Linked DNA regions of Homo sapiens: regions 1 and 2 are each linked to region 3. The links come from fine-mapping of genetic effects on gene expression. A gene starts in region 3. Each other region holds a variant in brackets. All regions are shown on one strand. Distances are from middle to middle.

Evidence for each region. PIP is the estimated chance that this variant, and not a neighbour inherited with it, causes the effect.
Region 1: its variant is the best candidate, but not a certain one, in a credible set for the expression of VIT in tibial nerve (GTEx, PIP 0.74).
Region 2: its variant is the best candidate, but not a certain one, in a credible set for the expression of VIT in tibial nerve (GTEx, PIP 0.86).

The regions. Positions count from the first base shown.
Region 1 is chr2:36,754,434-36,759,663 of GRCh38, reverse strand. It overlaps VIT (vitrin), which reads right to left. Exons shown (of 16, transcript NM_053276.4): 5 at 4,610-4,743; 6 at 618-695. The region is part of intron 2 of LOC124905990 (a long non-coding RNA gene); the gene reads left to right. Among named protein-coding and RNA genes, the nearest start is that of VIT, 60 kb to the right of the region's middle. RefSeq lists an enhancer at 5,138-5,230. The variant A/G (reference allele first, on the strand shown) is at 3,091.
Region 2 is chr2:36,764,511-36,769,740 of GRCh38, reverse strand. It overlaps VIT (vitrin), which reads right to left. Exons shown (of 16, transcript NM_053276.4): 7 at 2,456-2,647. It overlaps LOC124905990 (a long non-coding RNA gene), which reads left to right. Exons shown (of 3, transcript XR_007086283.1): 2 at 5,006-5,109. Among named protein-coding and RNA genes, the nearest start is that of VIT, 70 kb to the right of the region's middle. The variant G/T (reference allele first, on the strand shown) is at 2,944.
Region 3 is chr2:36,694,743-36,699,972 of GRCh38, reverse strand. VIT (vitrin) reads right to left here and starts at 3,266. Exons shown (of 16, transcript NM_053276.4): 1 at 3,000-3,266. All of the region lies in intron 2 of LOC124905990 (a long non-coding RNA gene), which reads left to right.

The DNA of each region.
Region 1 (5,230 bases), 60 kb before region 3:
CAGTTTCTCTTTGTGTGGGAAATCAAAACACCTCTGGAGATACAATAATGCATAGTACAGTTCTTGATTTAACACAGAAACCTGGAAAAAGGTATTTTCTTGGCCTGAGGTCTACCGATACTCCCTTTTGTGGTTCACATGAAAGCTGAGTTGGCACAACCTTGTAGACAGTGTATTTTTGGCCTGGGTTATTTGGATGAGCAGCTTGCTGTTATCACATAAACCACCTCGTTCTCTTTGCTTCTCTTCATTTCATATCTAAGTAGATACAGCTTTTTCCTTTTAGCTGCCAGGAAACATTTCCGGACAGAATGTCATGTCATTTTCTAAAGCAACAATACATTAAAACTCAAGGCAACAGTCAATCTGAATGAAAATGACACAAATATAGAGACACAATCTCGGAATTGCAAAAACAAAAAATAAAGCTTTCATTCTTCAGCCCCAGCCATCTGATCTCATTGATTTCTGTGCCCATGTTCCTGGCATCTGTTAAAATATTGCCAGAGCCAGTGGAGCTTGACCGGTTAAGATGTTAATTTCTCCGCTATCTCCCAAAACACGTCGCGTGTTCATGGACTCAGAAGGTTTAGATTCAATCACACGTGAGCACTTGCCTGCTTGGGCAGCTGGACTTTTCGATGATGAGTATGTAAGAGCTGATGGGTAGGTTACACCCTTTTTGGGTTTACTTTCTGCAAAAAAGAGAAAAAAAAAACGAGATTTATTTCTAGAGCTAGAGGTTTTAGATGGTTCTGTACTAAGTTGATTCTGTCCTTTCAATTTATCTCTCTTCAGTTCAATAAAATCAGTCTCCCTCATGCTGAATAGTTGATTACAATGAGAATGTCATGTGGCATTTTGTTTTCCTGTATAGCTTGTGTTTTATTACTATTAGAATGGAAGCAACCAACTCTCCATGATTCAGAGTTGCTTAACATCAGCAATCCTTCTTTCACCCGTGAAGATGTGACATGGAAGTGAAGGTTTTTATCTGTGTGGCTTCGAATGTTTAATTGTATCAGTAGGTGAACGGGAAAGCCCTCCACATGCTCTCCTTTGAGATGATGGAGTGCTCCGGTCATAGGCTCACTTTCACAGACCGTGTGGGATTCATTTGAATTTCATAGCAGTAGTAAAACCTAAAAGTAGGTAAATATAGGTCAACCTTGAAAATAACCATGTGTTGCTCACCCAGGGGGAGACACGGTAGCTAGCAGGCAAGGAAGAGGAATGGTAACGTCTATTAGGGAAAAAAATAAGCATAAAAAAATTGCCAAAGTCTTCTTCTGACCATAAAAGGACGCCTGAAATTCCACCATATGGTCTTTGTTCCACAAGTAAAGTGAGAATGCCACTGGAATACAGTAAGCCCCCTGAAGGCAAGTCATTTTTCTGACTTGGTAACGGTTGAATTTTCAGAGCTCAAAGCAATTTGTTCCTGGCGTGAAGCAGTTGCTCAAGAAGTATTTATTCAGTGGGGGAATATCTTAAAGCTTAGATCTCTGTTAAAATTAAAATACCTTGGTAGGGGTACTACCTGTTAGCCAATATTACATCTAGTAATGAAAGCATTTCTTCTCCCATCTGGAGGGAATACTTTTACAGGATGCGAAGATGGTAAGCAGTGTGGCACAGAGAACCTAGGTGGGTGGAGGAGGATCTAGGGCACTATCTTGCCAACCATCCTGCTGGCACAGGAATCGTAGGGTCATGAAGCAGAAAGAATAGCAGGGTCTAGGTAAGAACCTAGGATTAGGAGTAAGACAATCTAGGTTTCTGTTTCTGTTTTACCTTTAATTAACTGCCCCAACCTTTGAGGCTCTTGTGTTTTCATTCACAAAACAGGAATAATGACACGGCCCTGCTTACTACACAAGATTGTAGACATCTAATGGAAAAAATGTTAAAATGTTTTGGAACTATGTATCTCCATAGAGATGCAAAAATTTCTTCTGGTGTTACCTATAAATGCCACGTGTTTGGGCTTACTTGCATTACTTTACCTCATTAGAATCACCTGGGGAACAGGACTGGCATTTCCAAGTCCTCCACCAATGTCAAGGCCTGCTCCAAATGACAATGACTGAGGTTATTTTAGGCCCAGAGAGGGCCCCATGGCTGTGGGCCACACTTTATCTGCAGAAAGCGAGGAAGAGACATCTTCTCTATTTATTGATCTAAAACGTGATTTTTTTTTCTGTTTCTATTCAGAAGGAAAAGGAGCATGAGCTCAGTTCCCTGAAATGTGGATCAAAGGATAAAAGGGAAGTATTAGGGGGTCCCTCACTGACATTTCATATCCCTGGACTGTGTAAAGATCATGCGGGCCGTAAACGTACATCTCCTCTTTTGCTCCCCCTCTTAGCTCACCAAAGTGAATTAGTTAAGGAGCTCAGGGGCATATGAAAATTAGAAATAAAAACCTAGAGAAAGATCATGGTGGCACCTGAGCCTTCAGAAGAGGATTCGGACATCATGCAGTTAAACTTGCTGGCCATGAACCTCTGGATAATGGGAAGCATTCCTTGGCTGCCAGTCAGTTATCAATGCTTATGCTGCAGTGAGCTCCTAACTCATCCATTCGAGAGAGGCTTCCAAGCCATTGCAGAAGCACAAATGTTTATTATCATTGGCAAAAAGTATTTTCGGTTAACTGTCACTAGGTCGAATGAGGGGAGATGGAAGTCGAGATTTATAGGGAATAATATCAGCAGATTGATTTTCACTTAAAAAGCCCAAAACATCTCTACTGCCATAGAATTAATTTTTCTTTTAAACCTCTGTTGAGATTCTTGGATTGCAGACTGAGCACTTAAGGCTGAAATGCTCTTATTCAGCCAGGATCTACTTGGTGAACACCTATGCGGAGATTATATTTCTCTCTGTCTCAACATATTTGTATTCGAGACATTAGCATTTTTATATGGCTCCCGTTGTGAATTTTTTGTTACAAGGCAAAAACCCCACAGTACTGCGGTTGATACCCTTCCGCTATCTGACAAAGAAACCAGTCTAATTTGAACTGTGGGCGTGTAGAATTTGGCAGGCAAAAGGAAACATGGATTGCTCAAGTTGAGAAGAATAGTA[A/G]AAGGTCTGTTTGTTGTCCTGCTAACGACTCTAATCAGTGGAGGACGGTAGGGGCTTGAGGCATGGGGTGCCTAGCAGTGCTAGAAAACCACCCAGATTGGAAGACCTACTGTTTTATGAAACATTTCTCTCTTCCCTGTTCAGCTAGTTTTCTATAAGTGACTCCTTCTCAGGACAGTCCCAAGGCACCTAATTTTGTTGGGAGGCCAGGAAGTTGGCTACAATCTAGTTTAAAATCCCATGGAACCGCCTTAGAGAAAATGGGAGATTCAGGTTTAGAGTAGGGTACGTATAAGGTGAGTATAGAACACTGTTAGGCTGGGCGTGGTGGCTCATGCTTGTAATCCCAGCACTTTGGGAGGCCGAGGTGGGCGGATCACCTGAGGTCAGGAGCTCGAGACCAGCCTGACAAACACGGAGAAACCCCGTCTGCACTAAAAATACAAAAATTAGCCGGGCATGGTGGCACATGCCTGTAATCCCAGCTACTCGGGAGGCTGAGGCAGGAAAATCGCTTGAACCCAGGAGGCAGAGGTTGCGGTGAGCCGAGATCGTGTCATTACGCTCCAACCTGGGCAACAAGATTGAAACTCCGTCTCAAAAAAAAAAAAAAAAAAATACTGTGTTGTCCTCAAGCACTACCGTGAACATGTCAAAAGCTTGAAGGGCTCCCACTGGGCAATCTCAGAAAATATGAGCACCAAAAAGAAAAATAAAGATAATAGATGATAACATTATATTTTTAAAAACAATCTATGAATCCATAGTCCACTTAAAAATAATAGGTGCAGAGGGGGAAAGCAACTCTTCTTTATATAAGAACACTAGCTAACAAATGTGGAAGGAATGACAGAATTAGAAAAAATTATAATTTTGCAATTACTAATGTAATACTTGTTACAGTGAGGATCGGCAATGGATGTTAAAATCACTGGGTGAAATTTGTTGGGGAACAAGCTACTCGAGCATGTTAAAGCATTACCCTACAGATGCTTATTAATTACGGGGTATCTTTGCCATGGACAGATATGGTAAAATATCCAGTGAATCAAACTTAGCATCACCAACAATGGAACAGACTGCCATTATATGCCTCTTGATATGGCCATTGTGTATGACACAATGGATTTGCTGTGACAATACCTATCTATCCACTTAACAGAAATCTCAAGGAATAAGGTTCTAGACATGAGGCACATTTGGCATAACTAAAGGACTGGTTTAAAAACCCAAGCTATTAAATGTAATTAATGTAATTAAAAATCTGATTGGACTTACAGATAACTGCAGTGTAATTAAAACAAGCATGTGGAGCCTTTTAGTATTTTCAGATATGACTTTGTGGTGATTTATCATGTAATTCTAATTTATTGTGTCGTGATTCTAATTATCAGAAAAACGAATGCTTCAGATTTTTATGAAATGAGGTGGGCCATAAACAAAAACCAACAGCACAATGAAAAGAGCACATTTCATCTTGTGGTAGGTTTAGCAGCGTTTCTCCAGTGTGTGGTCATACCTAAGACGATAAAGGATTCTCTCCATCGTGGTAGGGATAACGATTGGACACCGTTGGAATAACTCCCTTTGTAACCAGACTGTCCAGCAACCTTCCGAACAAGTATTTTCCCTCCTGAATTATCAAGCACACCACTATGAAGAGAAAAAATAATTTTTCAGGAAAGAACAGAAATATTTTTTGACGTGATCAACAGGCTAGAAAACCAGTCGCCATCTTTATTTACACATAGGAAAGCAGCAAGGTTAAGCAAAGTTTACCTTGACATGAAGCCCAACCCACAAGAATGGTGCCTCCACCAGCAGACCCAGCATCTGAGCTCCCAGGGTCAATGTCCTTCTCTTTCTTCTTATAGGAGCTGATTGTTCTGTCAGGGATTTCTTTTTGCCACCATGCCTCAGATTTCTTTTCCTTGGTTTTCTCATTCCCACTAGCTCTTTTAAGTAAAGCCTCTTTCTTGACAGTTTCCAATTTGGTTTTGTGATGGCACAGAATGAATTTAGTTATTCCAAAGGGTGATATAAAATGATGAAAAGTAAACACTCCTTTTTTTTTGGGTCAGGGAGGAAAGCTGTGCAGCTAAGTTAAACTCATTAAAAAAGCATCCCCCAAAGATGGAAA
Region 2 (5,230 bases), 70 kb before region 3:
AAAACCATTGATTTGTACTTTACATGAGTGAATTGTATGGTTTCTGGAAAGTCTCTCATGAATACTTTTATTTTAAGAAGACATAAGCAATTAAATATTAATTTTCACTTCTTTTTAGGCCTTCAGAAACTCCTTTGAATAGGCAATACAACTTTTAAAAAGCTCTCCCCGCTTCCCCAGTTTGGTTCCTATCCTAGCCATTGTGGTGCATGCTTCATGGCTTGCTTGCTCCGAGCGTTTGTCTAGCAGTCTGTGGATCACCATAGAAGTGGGCTCTGGACAAGGATGAAGAAGGAACACTGATGGGCCAGGAGGCTGTTGTCCAAAGCTCCTGTTCCCAAGCCAGGAATAAAGAAGCTTTGCCAGGTTAGGAGCCACTACTTCAAGTTTCTTAGGTTTTCCACCAGCAGAGCCCAACTTGCAACAGATTTCCAAGCTCCCAGCGTAGCCAAATAAATATGCCACATGTTTAATTATATGTGTTATGTAAGAATTTAAAGTCCTCTAAGGAGAAAACAGGAGCAAACAACTAACTCAGATACTCAAAAATCTTTGAAAGAATCAAGGCATCTGAAGTCAAGAGCCTGAAATTTTAGAAAGGAGAACTTCTGGCTACAGAACCCCTGTTAACCCTTGCCATCCAGCATCCTTCCTGTTTCTCTTTTGCTGTCAAGTATTGTGCACCTGTGTTAATATTATCCTGAGTTAAACAGGAACAGAATGGTGGAGGAGTGTTTGATGTATTTCAGAACACCAAAAATTCTTTTTGCGGTATTCTTATTCTGGGACTTTATATCATAGCTTCTTCAAAGAGTCGTCCATAAAATAGCATAATAATAATTCTTATTTCAAAAAGTTATTGGGAAGATTAAATAAGATAATACATGCAGTATACCTGGTAAATGAGATATATGTACTACATGCATTCTGTTATTATTAATTCAAGAAGAAGTTGGCTGTGCTGAGCACCTTTTAATTTTGCCATACTAATCATGCCAAAATGTGCTCTGCCTGGGCCTGGGGTGTTCATTTTTGGCAGGGATGCTCCCCTGCAAGGAAGAGGAGAGCCAGGCTGCTGGAGTTTGAATTCCAGTTCTGCCACTTCCCAGCTGTGTAGGCTGGAACCAGTTTCCTCACTGCCTTACTCCTTGGTTTCCTCATCAATACAATGGATTATTGAAATTGGAAGTCATAAATCTACTTCATAGGGTTGTTACGGAGGATTCAATAGGCTAATATTTGTAAGGTGTTCAGAAGATGGGCTAGCATATTCAAAGTGCTGATTTGCATTTTTATTTATTTATTTATTGAAACGGAGTCTCTTTCTGTCACCCAGGGTGGAGTGCAGTGGTGCGATCTCGGCTCACTGGAACCTCTGCCTCCCAGGTTCAAGCGACTCTCCAGCTTCAGCCTCCCAAGTAGCTGGGACTATAGGCACGTGCCACCACACCTGGCTAATATTTGCATTTTTAGTACAGATGGGGTTTCACCATGCTGGCCAGGCTGGTCTTGAACTCCAGGCCTCAAGTGATCTGCTTGCCTCGGCCTCCCAAAGTGCTGGGATTACAGGCGTGAGCCACCGCTCCCAGCCTGATTTGCATTTTTTAAATAAGAAGATGGATAGGTAGGTAGCTGGCCTCTGCTATGGGAGCGGAGAGGGGGAAGGGTCATGCTATGTGGCAGTAGTGACTGCAAGCTGGAGGCGAGCCTGAAAAGAACAAGTCCAGAGCACTTCCTCCTGGAAGGAAAAAGTGGCACCAGGTGGGAAATATTCAGAAAACATTGCTAAGACAATAGTGGAACTCCAGCTGCAGAAGTTTTCGCCCCCTTGCTAGAAAAGTTCTGGAAGTGAGATAGATGCTTATTAACTTAGGATGGTGTAGATATAAGTCTGTGCAGAAATGAGATCAGATGATCAGATGGGCTCCTTAGGCCCTATTTGATGTAGTACGAGATGAAGTCCATAAACTGGACCTTGATAAAACCTTCAACATGATTTGAGCAATGGGTAAAAGTAGTAAGACAAAAAACCATCAGAAAAGGAACAAAAACATTAGCTGACTTTTCCTAAAGGGATTCTTTTGGTTTTGTTTGCTTTTAATATTTGAAGACTTCCAAGTCTGTACCATTTGTCACTTAAAAACCAATAACAACAACAATAAACCCCAACAATGTTTACATAGAAATCTACCATCCCTTCAACTGAGCTTTTGGAGAAATGAAGATTTTGCAATGGGAAAGTATTCTATCTTCAGAAGTACGGTGACAGCAGTCTTATTTTTGAATCTACATCCTCCCTTGAATCTAGGAGGAGGACACAAATAACATACCCCCGGCCCAGTTCTCCAGTGCTCCCCATTCACCCAGCCCAGTAGATGCTCAGACAGAGCTGTTACTCTAAAAGCCCAATTTCCCATTTCCCTAGCACAAAGCAACACATGGTCTACCTACTGACCCATCTCCTGGCTCCTGTGGCCCACTGATTGTGGTCTGGGGATGCTGGTGGTAGAAGCAGCAGAAGGGGATGGCCTTGGCAAGGTGGTGGGGGTGGCCACAGCTACAGTGACAGCCAGAAGCTGCATCAGAGTGACCGGCTGTGCAGTTGTCCCTGGAATAGGTGGCCTCTGATAGGCTTTTGTGGTCTCACCTGTAAGAAAATGGAATTATACCAAGGCCCACAAAATAACCTGTACACTCTTATAGAACTAGAAATAAAATAAATGTTGATTGAACACTAGCTATGAGCACAGAGCTGTGCTAGCCACGGTGAAGGGTGAAACCCAGGTAACAGCCACATTCTTGCCTGAAAGAATGTATGCTCTCAGAGCAATCACTCAATCAACCAAAGATTCAATAGCAATAAAATAAATGACAGGTCAAAACTATAGCAACATAGAACATAGACAAGGCAGAACATGATTAATTGCTGAATTAATTTGCCTG[G/T]CACCACTAGCAATGGTTTATGTACATTTTTTTTTGTTTTTGTTTTTTGCTGATTTGATTAGCATTGGCCTTGGAATAGAAGACAGAAGGTGCATTTGGGGCTTTCATTATGACCTAGTCTTAGAGAATACGTTTTAGATGCGCTGGTTTAGGTTGGTTCATGACTAGTCAACTCTTCTGGGCCCCAGTTTCCTAATCTGTAAAATGGGGTAATAGAACTACCTGGATGGCAAGGATGATCCAGATTCTACATTTTTTTTCTTTTTTGAGACAGGATCTTGCTCTGTCACCCAGGCTGCAGTGCAGTGGCACAATTATAGCTCACTGCAGCCTCGAACTTCTGGGGTACAGTGATCCTCCCACCTAACCTCCCAAGTAGCTGGGACTACAGGTGCAAGACACCATACCTGCCTAATTTAAAATTTTTTTTTTGTAGAGAAAGCATCTTCCTGTGTTGCCTAGGCTGATCTTGAACACCTGGCCTCAAACAATTCTTCCATCTCAGCCTCCCAAAGCTCTGGGATGACAGGTGCAAGCCACTGTGCTCGGCCTAGATTCGACTTCTAAATGGTGCTCTTCATCCACGTGTGATGATTTAGATCACTTCTCTCCTTTTAAACACCGCTGTAGTTGGCTCCCTATAAAGCAAGTCTCAGTTTGTTAGTGCTCTGAGAATATCTCTGAAGGTTTAGAGCAAGGGGACAAGTGGCTACCCACTGGGCATTGGGGTTTGTCTTGAGAACTGTGAGTTCTCAGGGAGACACACAGTGGCCCCCAAAGTGAACAGCTCCTCGGTCCTGGGAAGGAACAACCCACTGTTGCTTGTGCCTGCTGGGCCCCATTGGGGCATGCCAGCTTCTGTCCCTGTGTACCTGTATCAGCTGCTAGGGCTGCTGTAACAAACTACCACAAACTGGGTGGCTTAAAATGACAGAAATTTATTCTCTCACAGTTCTGGAAGCCAGAAGTCAGACATCAGCATCACTGGGTCAAACTCAAGGTGTCAGCAACACTGAGCTTTCTCAGGAGGCTATAGGGTAGACTCTGTGTCTTGCCTCTTCTGCTTTCTGCTGACTGCTGGCATTCCTTGGCTTGTGGCCATGCCACTTTAGTTTTCAAGGCCAGCATCTTCAGTTGTTTCTCTGCTCCGTCGTCATATGACCTCTGATATGGTTTGGGTCCGTGTCCCCACCCAAATCTCATCTCAAATTGTAATCCCCATAATCCCCACCTGTCAAGGGAGGGATGAGGTGGAAGGTGATTGGATCATGGGGGCGGTGTCCCTCATGCTGTTTTCATGATAGTGAGTGAGTTCTCACAAGCTCTGATGGTTTTATAAGGCAGTTTTTCCTCTCTCTCTCTTTCTCTCTCTCTCTCTCTCTCGCCTGCTGCCATGTAAGACATGCCTGCTTCCCCTTCTGCCATGATTGTATGTTTCATGAGGCTTCCCCAGCCATGTGGAACTGTGAGTCAACTAAATCTCCTTTGTTTGTAAATTACCCAGTCTTGGGTAGTGTCTTTATAGCAGTGTGAGAACGAACTAATACAACCTCCTCCTCTATGGATGTGAAATAATCTCCCTCTGCCTTCCTTTTACAAAGATGCCAGTGATTGCATTTAGAGCCCACCTGGGGAATCCAGAATAACCGCCCCGTCACGATCTCAGGATCCTTAATTTAATCACATTAGCAAAGGCTCCCCACATTTTTTCCATATAAGGAAACATTCAATGGTTCCAGGGATTAGGACATGGATATCTTTTCCAGGGTGTTTTTCAGCCTACCACAGCATCCCAGCTCTGGCCTTAACTCTGCTTGGGGTTGATACATTTTTGTTACACAGCACAGCAGACCAAGAAGATAGCATCTGAAATAAGAAGGTGCTTCTGTCTTGGTGGGAACCATCCACCTTCCCCTTTGACATTGTATAACATCCAGGAAAATAGTGCCAGAATCATAGTCCTGGACAAGTGATGCAAACAAATGTGTGGTGGGGTGTTTAGACCCACCGCCAACAGCAGCACCTGCTCATTTCCCCACCCTGACTCTGCCGTCTTTTGCAGGAATCACAGCACTGACTTAAGACAGCAGGTCAGCAAACAGTATTCCTGGAATCGGGTTGGAATTCAGCCATTCGGTCTGCTCTTGCAGGCATTAGCTGGTCAAGGTAGGAAACCGATCTTTCAATTGCCTTGTTTCTTGCTAAGTTGGTCACCTTTAAATTTGCCTGTAGCCTGTGTCAGACAAATCACTAAAGAGCTCACAGCAGCCTCCTTCAAGCCATCCTC
Region 3 (5,230 bases):
GGGTAGGCAGTAGTAATAGACCCATTTTATAGATGAGAAAACTGAGGCCAAGAGACTTTAAGTAACTTGCCAAAGTTAACACATTGAAAAAGTAACAGCTTTCCGCCTAACACCCACATGACCCATAGCACAGGAAGGTCCATTTTTGCCTTGACCTCGCATGTAAGGCTTTAAATTAAGGCATTTGACATTCTTTCCGAATGGGGTTATATTGACAGTCACAGAAATACAGCAGAAAGCTGAAAAAAGTCTTTCATACAACTTGGACCCACAGTCTCCAGTACACTATGTATATGTGTGTGCATATCTATCTATCTATCTATCTATCTATCTATCTATCTATCTACCTATATATCTATCTATATCTATATCTATATCTATATCTATAATCTCCTCTAATCATCTTCTGAAGAATATGGAGACATCTATATATATGTGTGTGTATATATATATATAACCCCCTCTAATTGTCTTGTGAAGAATATAATTATGTCAAATTTCATTTTTGTATACATGTAAGTCTCTGGTTAGGTAAACATGCATATTTAAAATATACCATAATTTTCATAGCACTATTTCGATACTTCTTCATTTAGCAATGTACAGAGAGTCTCAACAGTGAAATTTTCCTGGCCACATTTTGACACTGGAGAGGTCCCAGTGCATAGAACCATAGGATTGAGAGGGAAGCTTAGAGACTATCTTGTGTAACTTCTTCATTTCGTATGTGATGAAATAGAGATGGAGACATTGAGTAACCTCTCCAGTGCACCATGGCTAAATGCCCTTCTACTGACAGACAGGCCCATTGTGTTCTGTCTTGTCCCCACTGCTGCTGATGCTTGGCTCACACCTCCAAGTGTTAGCAAGGAGAGGGGAAGTTGCACATGTGGACACAGCATCATGGGAACATGTTGGGGGCCATGAAGTTTTTATTATATAAATGCTTTCTAAAGTAATCTTTTTTTTTTTAATATGTGGGGAATAAAAGATTACATTTCTTTTCTTTTCTTTTCTTTTCTTTTTTTTGAGACCAGGTCTCACTTTGTTGCCCAGGCTGGAGTGTAGTGGCGTGATCTCAGCTCACTGCAACCTCTGCCTCCCAGGTTCAAGTGATTCTCCTGCCTCAGCCTCCCGAGTAGCTGGGATTACAGGCACCCGCCATCATGCCTGGCTAATTTTTGTATTTTTGGTAGAGATGGGGTTTCACCATGTTGGCCAGGCTGGTCTCGAACTCCTGACCTCAGGTGATCCACCCACCTCGGCCTCCCAAAGTGCTGGGATTACAGGTGTGAGCCACTGCGCCAGGCCAAGATTACATTGCTATAGAAGTTTTGACATTTCAAAACTCCTTTGGAGCTGAGAACCACTATTGACCCTTGTGGCCGCCCTGGGAGGGAGGGTGTACAGGCATTGCTATTTCTGTTTTCCAAAGAGAGAAACAAAAGTCAAGAAATGTTATATATGTTTTCCAAGGTAATAGGTAGTGGCAGAGCTGTTACTATAATTTAGGACTCCTGGCTTGGCGCATGCATTGAACCATACTGCTTTCCTGTATTCAATGTGTCTTATAGGAATCATAGCTGAGAACCATTCTCAAACCTCATGTATTTTCTCTGAAAGAAACTATTCTTCATGTGATCAGTAACTTGGTGGAAAAGACAGATCTTCTTAACAATATTCATGAATTAAACAGTTTTAGGATAGATATTAAGCATTTCCAATCTTCCTAAGGTATTTTTATTTTTTTTAGTGGTGAGGCATAAGATATATTTAAATGAAGCTTAGTCTGGGAAACCAGCATATTGCAATAAAAAAATGCAAGTCTTTGCAATCTTGTAATTCTTTGTCTAAAGCTTTTTGTACAAAAGAGGGTATTTTAATTCAATAAATAAAAGATGGGCACTTCCAGCTCTCCTACCAGCACTAGCTACCACTTGCAGCTAACACACATAGAGAGAAAATACACAAACAAACAGTGTTTGATCCTGCTTTGCTGCAGGGTGTTTTCATCTTTCAAGAGACCAAGGGAAAAACAACCTCAGAACTTTACCACCAAAACTTCCAAATTTATTGCAACACAACGTAACGGCAAAATACTATTTTCTTAGCACACGCAATTTTGAGCAACCACCACGGCCAAGAATGCTTGTTTTTATTTTTACAATAAGTCCAAAGAAAATTTTTAATTCCACTCTTGATTTAGGAATGGCAAAGATGCTGTGGGTTGTTTGGAGAAAACTGTCATGTCTAATTATTCAGTCTTATCCTCTCTCTTTAACCTGTGCTTGAGGCGTTTATTTCATGTTTATACTAGTTGGACACAAATCATACTTAAAAGAGATTTCATATCCTGTCTTCCTGTGAAAAGCTGAGCTACGATGGCAGACTTAACAATGCCAGCCCCTTGTTGGGCTTATCAGTAACAGAAGCATTCAGCCTAAGAAAACACTTTAAGTGTAAACAAGACACAGAATCGCACATCTAGCCACATTCCACTGAAATCTGTCTGAATAGAGAGAAGTAGAGATCCACACGAAATAGTTTCTCTTTTAAGTTAGCACCAATGTGCCCATTTCTCATACTGCCATTCACAATCTTTATAAGCAATTTGCTATATTGCTATTACATTCCACATATTCCAAGCAAAGTTTTTAAAAAAGCAAGATAATAGAGACTTAAATTACTTTAAAATTCTACACAAATGTCATACTTTTCAACTTATTTGTAACCATAATTAAATTGGTTTAAAGGAACAGTAAAAATCTTGTTATAATATTAATATCAATGCAGTTTATTTATAATTGATAAATATATATGTATATTACTAGTTGTTTACAAGGATGCCAAGTACCATCCACTTTCATCTCAACTCTCTTGAAACTGAAATTTGCTTACTCGGTCAAGCTTTGTATTGTAGTTTCTTAAAGACAAATACGTTTCAATGATAATGAATGGAAAGTAACTATATACACAGCTTAGAAATTCATCAGACATACCTTGTTTGAAGAAGGCAATTTTTTTTTCAAAAAATTTTCACCACACAGAATGAATATTCTTTTTCCCTTAGGCTTTCCTGCATCACAAATCCCATCCAAATTATTCTAAGGAAGAAACAGGGAGAGGTCCAAGAACCTTTTCTCTTCTTCTCAGAGGAGCTAATCGAACAGTCCCATCAACCTCTCAGTACTTTGAAAAACACATTTTACACCCCCCCCCACACACATACACACACACACATGCTCACACATACTGCTTCTCACACTGGTTTTAGTGCTGAATTAGGCGGTCCTCTTTCAAATTTCCACTCCCACTGCTTTTTTTTTTTTTTTTTTTTGTAAGGATTTCTAAATATTCTTTTGTAGCCCAAAGCACAAACTTTCAGTAAGCAAATTCTACAATTTGACATTCTAAAAAGTAGAGGAGGACCACTTAGATAAAAATGGAAAGTAAAAGATATGTTTTAAAAATTACTTCAGCAGGGGCAATTCAATTTTTTCTTTCTTTTTCAAAAGCTAGTGAACAGCTGGACTGAACTGCACAAAGAAGGAAAACTGTGCAAACACTCTCAAACTTATTCTACTGGACTCCCACTTTTGAATTGAAAATATGTACTTTTTCCTACATATTAATGCTATTTTTTTGTTTTGTTTTGCTTCAGTCCTTTCTGCGTTTTGGCAAGTTTTATGAAATGACTCAATTATATGCTGGTAGTTACAGGACACAAGATAATCATAGTGGGAAGCAAAACCTGACTCATGTTTCAAAAAAAATACTGATGAATAATCTCACATGAAATCTGCCAGTTTTAGTTATTTATATATTAGTGTCATCAATGAAATCTAAGAGATTCAGATTCAAAATGTGTATTAACGTATCACATCATTAAAAAAAAATCAGACCAAAAAAAAGTACATCTGGCAGATCTTGAGATTCCAGTGTCCATCAGTGTGGCAGAGCATCTGTTTTCAAGCACAGGAGAAGGTAGCAAAGAGTCATTCCTCCTCCTGCTGGGGAGTGTGCACTCACGCAGCTAGGGAGGAGAACCTTCTTCCATTCGAGAAGCCTCCTGTCCTCATCTGTTGGCCCTGGAACTGCTCCTTATTTAAGATAATTGTTTGACAGATCTTGTGCTCTAATGCCAAGTTATACATGGGATGATTGCTGGCACGTCTTCATTGGCTATATAAAATGTGGCCGAGAAGATAGGCTCTCACGGTAAGAAGTCTGTGTTGATTAGGAGTAACTTTGGCCCAGCTCTCTGGTCTAAAGCTCTCAAATGTGACTATGTGAATCTGGGTGGGATTCATCTGCTCAATGCCATTGTGCAGAGATGCATAAGCTTTTTAATGCTATAAAACATGGTAGCTGAAATTAAATGCCACTTTTTCAGAGGTGAATTAATGAAGAGCCTGATGAAATTCAAAGCTTTTTGATGTATAAAACTTGATAAATGGAATGATTCCATCAATAGGCGAAGTGTAGCAAGCTATCTAGATGGATAGTATGTAATTTCTGCACAGGTCACTGTTAAATAAATACATCACTGTACACTGATCAGGAATCTTCCTCCATTAAAGGAACATGAAGACTAAAAAAAGGGAGATAATGATTTGAATGTTATTTAATCATTTTTACCCTTACTTCTTTTGGTTCTGCAATGAAATTATTTCTCAATCCTCTTTATTCCTCCACTAAATTCTGAGCCCAGGTTCTTTGGTGGTAAGGATGATAATGCTGTAACACTGAGGATCCCCTGTCCTACCACTTGAATTAGGGCAGGTTCAGAATGGCAGCCTAAGCATAATTCATAATCACATTATTCCTAATACTACTACTACTAATGCTGCTGGACTCGGTGGCTCAAGCCTGTAATCCCAGCACTTTGGGAGGCCGAGGCAGGCAGATCACCTAAGGTCAGGAGTTCAAGACCAGCCTGGCCAACATGGTGAAACCCCATCTCTACCAAAAATACAAAAATTAGCCAGGCGTGTGATGGCGGGTGCCTGTAATCCCAGCTACTCGGGAGGCTGAGGCAGGAGAATCACTTGAACCTGGGAGGTGGAGGTTGCAGTGAGCCGAGATCGCACCACTGCACTCCAGCCTGGTTGACAGAGCAAGACTTGGTCTCAAAAAATAATAATAATAATAATAATAATGCTAGTTGCTGTTTATCAAATACTTACTTTTACTAAGGACAGCAACCCTGTACATATATCATTACATTTAA